Linked DNA regions of Homo sapiens. The protein of the gene in region 1 purifies or fractionates together with the protein of each later gene. This does not show direct contact. Each region holds a gene or a part of one and is shown on either strand. Other genes may lie near its edges.

The links.
Region 2: the proteins of PODNL1 (region 1) and BBS7 purify together in Homo sapiens (co-immunoprecipitation; one large-scale study listed by IntAct). This does not show direct contact.

The regions. Positions count from the first base shown.
Region 1 is NC_000019.10:13,933,004-13,935,708, reverse strand, and holds part of PODNL1 (podocan-like protein 1 isoform 4 precursor), read left to right. Parts: intron 1-1,298; coding exon 1,299-1,455; coding exon of another isoform or gene 1,456-1,466; intron 1,467-1,715; coding exon 1,716-1,831; intron 1,832-2,253; coding exon 2,254-2,705.
Region 2 is NC_000004.12:121,856,874-121,860,713, reverse strand, and holds part of BBS7 (BBSome complex member BBS7), read left to right. Parts: intron 1-1,535; coding exon 1,536-1,722; intron 1,723-3,840.

The DNA.
Region 1 (2,705 bases):
CCAGCCCAGGCCCCCAGGCCTCAGATACATCTGTGTCATGCCCCGGTTCTAGGAGCAATGAGGGAGTTAAGACCTTGCCCTCGGCCGGGTGCAGTGGCTCACTCCTGTAATCCTAGCACTTTGGGAGGCCAAGGTGGGAGGATCATCTGGGGTCAGGAGTTCGAGACCAGCCTGGCCAACATGATGAAACCCTGTCTCTACTTAAAATACAAAAATTAGCTGGGGGTGGTGGTGTGCGCCTGTAATCCCCGCCACTCAGGAGGCTGAGGCAGGAGACTGGCTTGAACCCAGGAGGTGGAGTTTGCAGTGAGACGAAATCGTGCCACCGCACTCAAGCCTGGGCGACAGAGTGAGACTCTGTCTCAAAATTAAAAACAAAAACAGAAACAAAATGCCTTGCCCTGGAGGGCTTAACCAGGGACAGATCCCTAGCCTTGGGGAGTGGGAAGAGGGCATAGTTCTACCCTGGGAGGAGAGTGAGCGGGGAGACAGGGCCCTGTATGCTGTGTCAGAACTCCAGACTGAGGTGGAGACAGTATGTGCAGGGACACACACACACACACACTTACACAGACTCACATACACACCTGCACACACAACCACATGAACACATGCTCATGCACACACAATCACATGCACACACAAGCACACACACAGACTCACATACACACCTGCACACACTTCCAACCACATGCACACAGGCACACACTCATGCATGCACACGCAATCACATGCACACACAAGCACACACATGCACATATGTACACAATGCTCACACTTTTGCACATGATCACATGCACACATGGACATACATGCATACACACAGTTGCACACTCGGCTGCACACACACAATCACATGCACACTTATGCACAGGCATGCACACATGCACACCCACACTTACAATCACATGCACACACTCACCCATGCACACTTATGCACAGGCACATAGCACACACTTGCATATACATACACACATGCACGCCCACACACTCTTACAATCACATACACACGTGCACACACACTCCACATATGCACTCATTACACTTACACATGCACACTGCTCACACATGCACACACGTCTATTCATACAACACACATGCACACTCACCTGCACACCTACGCACAGTCACATGCACACATACACAATTACATTCCCACACAGACTCCACACATGCGCGCGCACACACACACACACACACACACACACACTGAAGGCGACCCTGAGCAGGGTGTGGTGCGGGAGTGGGGTGGTAGGAGGCGAGGGGCAGGCTGGTGGCCGGAGCCTGGCTCTCCTCAGGTCCGTGTACCTCCACAACAACCAGCTGAGCAACGCTGGCCTGCCCCCCGACGCCTTCCGCGGCTCCGAGGCCATCGCCACCCTCAGCCTCTCCAACAACCAGCTCAGCTACCTGCCGCCCAGCCTGCCGCCCTCACTCGAGCGGCTCCACCTGCAGGTAGCCCTGCTGTAGGTCCCACCCCGGGCCAGACTCTCTTCACCTCTTTCCAGGGGGACCCCTCCAGTTCCTAGCTTTCCATTCTTCTCAATTGCCCCTCAGAATGCCAGTGGTCAGAGTTATCCTTCTTTGAATCACTTTATTGGAAATCGCTTTGAGCTCAAGGCAAGCTCCTCGTCACTCCCTTACTCAAGAGCCGTCTGTGGCTTCCCGCTGCCCTCATCCCAGACTCAAGTCTCATTCTCTTCTTCCTTCTCCAGAACAATCTCATCTCCAAGGTGCCCCGAGGAGCCCTGAGCCGCCAGACTCAACTCCGTGAGCTCTACCTCCAGCACAACCAGCTGACAGACAGTGGCCTGGATGCCACCACCTTCAGGTACAGGCTGGTTGGGGGGCAGCAGGGGCTGAGAATTTACAGTCGGGGGTCCCAACCTTCAGTCCCCCTTCCCTGACTGGCTCCTAAGCCACGGCCTCATTTACTGAGTGCCTGCTGCTCACTGGGCTCGGCAGAGCACTGGGTAGGTGTCCCTGTTCCCCACAGCCCTGCACTGACATCGTAAGTCTCACATGCCTTTCCATCTCGGCTCTACCCTGGTCACCCCCATAGCTAACTCTCAGGCTGGAATCTGCCCTGGGCACCCCAAGTTTACCTCCCACCCAGCTCTCTCCACGCATCACTCCCAAGTCAAAATCTCCAGCTTAAATCTGTCTCAGGACCACTCCCCAGCCTCCCCGCCAAAATCTGTCAGGCACCCCACTCCAAGTGCCCCACCTAACACCGACCCTCTCTCCTTCCAGCAAGCTGCATAGCCTTGAATACCTGGATCTCTCCCACAACCAGCTGACCACAGTGCCCGCCGGCCTGCCCCGGACCCTGGCTATCCTGCACCTGGGCCGCAACCGCATCCGGCAGGTGGAGGCGGCTCGGCTGCACGGGGCGCGTGGTCTGCGCTATTTGTTGCTGCAGCACAACCAGCTGGGGAGCTCAGGGCTGCCCGCCGGGGCTCTGCGGCCGCTGCGGGGCCTGCACACGCTGCACCTCTATGGCAATGGGCTGGACCGCGTGCCTCCAGCCCTGCCCCGCCGCCTGCGTGCCCTGGTGCTGCCCCACAACCACGTGGCCGCGCTGGGTGCCCGTGACCTGGTCGCCACACCGGGCCTGACGGAGCTTAACCTGGCCTATAACCGCCTGGCCAGCGCCCGTGTGCACCACCGGGCCTTCCGCCGGTTGCGTGCCCTGCGCAGCCTCG
Region 2 (3,840 bases), on another chromosome or scaffold:
TTAAACCATGATAAGTGGAAATATGTAATTTCAAATGGTTTAACAAGAATAGTAACACTTTTGAAATACACTTGTATATAGACATGGCCAATGATAATTATGGAATACTGAAAGTAATGTGTTAATAGCATAACTCTACATTCGGACAGTTATATGGATAGTAGTGTGAGAAAGATAGAGAGTTTCTCAGTAACAGTCTCTTCAAGTGGTTTCTTAAATGTTTTTACTAGAGTGGCAAAGATGGGATAGAAAAGTTCTTTACTCAATTTTTGAAAATTGATTGTCTGAATCCCCACATTTGTAAGGTTTTATAGGAAAACAAAAGTTATAACTTGAAGATATTCAGTAAGGAAACTGACCACTTAACATTAGTCACCACATATCCTTTCCTGCTTAATGTTGCCATGTATCCCCACTCATGTCAACAATAGAGATTGCTAAATAGTACTTTGGCCAATATAATGCAAATATAATACAGATTGGTTTCAAAATGGAATTTAAAATTTTGAAAAACATAGAGAATTTCATGAAATTGATAAAAATAGTAAGAGGACTATTCAATCATATGCAGAGCCACAAAGTGAGGCCACTTAATAACTGAAGAATAGAAAATCAGGGAGGATTATTATAGGATAAGCTCTTCAGAGAATAATTTTAATATAAAATTTTTTAATAGAACTTGGAGGTAGAGGAATACATGAAACATTCAAATAAAATTACCCTCTTTATGATAAATATGGTAATAACAACCTAGAAGTGAAAAATATATCACACTTAAATATAATTTTTGTCAAGACATTTTAGCTCACCCAAGTGAAAACTCAGTTCAGTCTAAGAATTAGAATATAGTTATGACTATTGACTAAATTTTGTTAAATGTAATATGAAATAAACTTGTTTTCATTTCTTTTTTCAAGATAAAGTTCTAATGAAATCTTTTTTTTTCTGCTGTTTATCATTTAGTTTGAGGTAGAATCACTTAAAATAGACTTTTTCAGGCAATTTAGTGTGGTAGTAAGAAAGCTAACTCGAGCAAAAAACTGAGTTGCAGTCTAATCTACTACTTAATACTTAGGTGCCATTAGGCAAGTTATTTTACATTTTATTATTCACCTGTAAAAGGAATAATAATGGTCCTTATTTTATAGAGTTATGATGATTAATTGATCTAATACATAAAAATCACTTAAGATAGTGCTTGGCACATAGTACACAAAGAAGTCATTTTTTGATGTATTAATTGTCTTTGGATATAGACAGTTAAATTATCATTATCTTGTCTTTGTTTTCCATTTTTCTGAGCTCAGTTTTTATTGAGAAGCCCGAGGCCTTAACATCCTCATTTTCAGCTTTCAAAATCAAAAACAGTGTTATACCAAAAATACTAGGAATTAACTAGGAGAAAGTTTTAAAAACTGTGTTCTCTAAGTCTATAATAAAATGTTAGTAAACTGTATACATTTTTCTGTTTTTATCTCTGAAAAAAATTCAGTACCTGTGCTTATTTTTAAAAATTACTATTTTAATGTTCTCAGGCACATATCTGGCTCAGACCTCTTTCTCAGTGCAAGTTACATCTATAACCATTATTGTGACTGCAAAGACCAACATTATTACCTTTCTGGGGATAAAATCAATGATGTGATCTGCCTTCCAGTGGAAAGATTATCTCGTATCACACCTGTATTGGCCTGCCAGGACAGAGTGCTCAGAGTTTTACAGGTTGCTGTTATTTGTATTTTTCTAATTTTTTATATTATGTGAAAGAATATCAATGAACATTATGTACTTGAGATAAATTAGTGGTTACTGTTTTAAGGGCTTTTATAAACATGTGGAAACAATTTTTAAATAATTTGACATATTAATTTTTTTAACTTGAGTCAAATGTGTTGTTTTGTAAGTTTTTAAGAGAAGCATATTTGGAAGAAAAAGGATTTTTTTTGCCTCACCATACACAATTTCTGAGCTATTATCAGAATGGAGTACTTTGACTACAGAGAACCTTTACCTGCCTTTTTGTTTTGTTTTCTTCTTCCATCACCTTTATCTTCCCCAAAAATCAAATTAAAGGAAGAAATTGGGTTGGAGGGAGGATGTTATATAACTTGAGTTTATCCAGTGTTTATGGAAGTATATGGAATAAGCACTCAGTAAATATATGTTGGATAAGTAAATGAGTGATAGAGGGAAAATTCATTTTGATGTCCTTATATTTCTGGTAAAAACCACGATTGGCTAAAACAACTGCTTCAGGTCATTGTTATGAGTAATAATAGTTACCACTATATCTTCTTGAGAGTGACTTTCAATAAAATATATGCACACACACACACACACACACTCTATAGGATGCTTAAAATAATGTTTAAAGGTAAATAGCATGTAACAGTTAGATGAACTGTATCAGAAACAGGCTGATATAGTTGGTGCAGTTGATGAAAAAGTTGAGCTGTGAAGTCCATGCCACCACAGGCTATCTCACTCTTTGGAATTCCATAGTCAGATGGCCATTTCTTGGCATCAGCCCTTTTGTAAAAGGAAAAATCCAGTGAGTCTATGAGGTTTTTACCCCCCAGGGACAAAGTAATGTTAAAGGTTCATTTTAGGCCAGGCATGGTGGCTCACACCTGTAATTCCAGCACTTTTGGAGGCTGAGACGGGAAGATCATTTGAGGCCAGGAGTTTGAGACCAGCCTGGCCAACATGGTGAAACCCTGTCTCTACTAAAAATACAAAATTAGCTGGGTGCAGTAGCACACACCTGTAATCCCAGTTACTCAGGAGGCTGAAGCACAAGAATCACTCGAACCCAGGAGGCGGAGGTTGCGGTGAGCTGAAATTGCATCACTGCACTCCAGCCTGGGCAACAGAGGGAGACTCCATCTCAAAAAAAAAAAAAAAAGAAAAGAAAAAAGGTTCATTTTAGAGTTATGAATGATTAATTTCCCCCATAGCCTATGCTTTTAAATATGAATTGTTTTGAACAAGGCTTTTAACAGGAGCTGTTTAGCATTCAATTAGAAATTGACTGAATTCTAGGATTCTGCTTTGACAAGAGATCCATATGCTTATTATTTTTAAAATAATTACTAAAGATCTGTAGAAAATAAAGTTGAAGTCTTTCCCTCTGCACCGCATGCTTTTTTCTCACTCCCCGTCTATCTCTGTGAATAATCCATTACTCCAGAGGTTGCCTCTTTTTAACAGTTTTGTGTATATTCTTTTGTGTTTATATAGTTACGTGTAGATATCTGTAAATTTTAATATGATATTTTAAATAAAAGATAAAACAGGCTGGGCACAGCGGCTCAGGCCTATTACCCCAGCACTTTGGGAGGCCGAGGTTGGAGGATCACTTGACTCCAGGAATTCAAGACCAGCCTGGGCAACATAGCGAGACCCCCATCTCTTAAAAAAAATTTAGCTGGGCATGGTGGTGCATGCCAGTAGTCCCAGCTACTCAGGAAGCTGAGGTGGGAACATCATTTGAGCCCAGAAGGTCGAGGCTGCGGTAAGCTATGATCACACCACTGCACTGCACTCCAGCCTGGATGACAGAGTCAGATCCTGGCTCAAAAAAAAAAAAAAAGATAAAGCATATGGCTTTCTTACGTTTTCTAAATAAACATTAAACTTTTTTTAGTCCTGATGTGGTGGCTCACGCCTGTAATCCCAGCACTGTGGGAGGCTGAGGCAGATGGATCACCTGAGGTCAGGAGTTCAAGACCAGTCTGGCCAACATGGTGAAACTTTGTCTCTACTAAAAATACAAAACTTAGCCAGGCATGGTGGCCTGCACCTGTAATCCAGCTACTCGGGCAGCTGAGACAGGAGAAT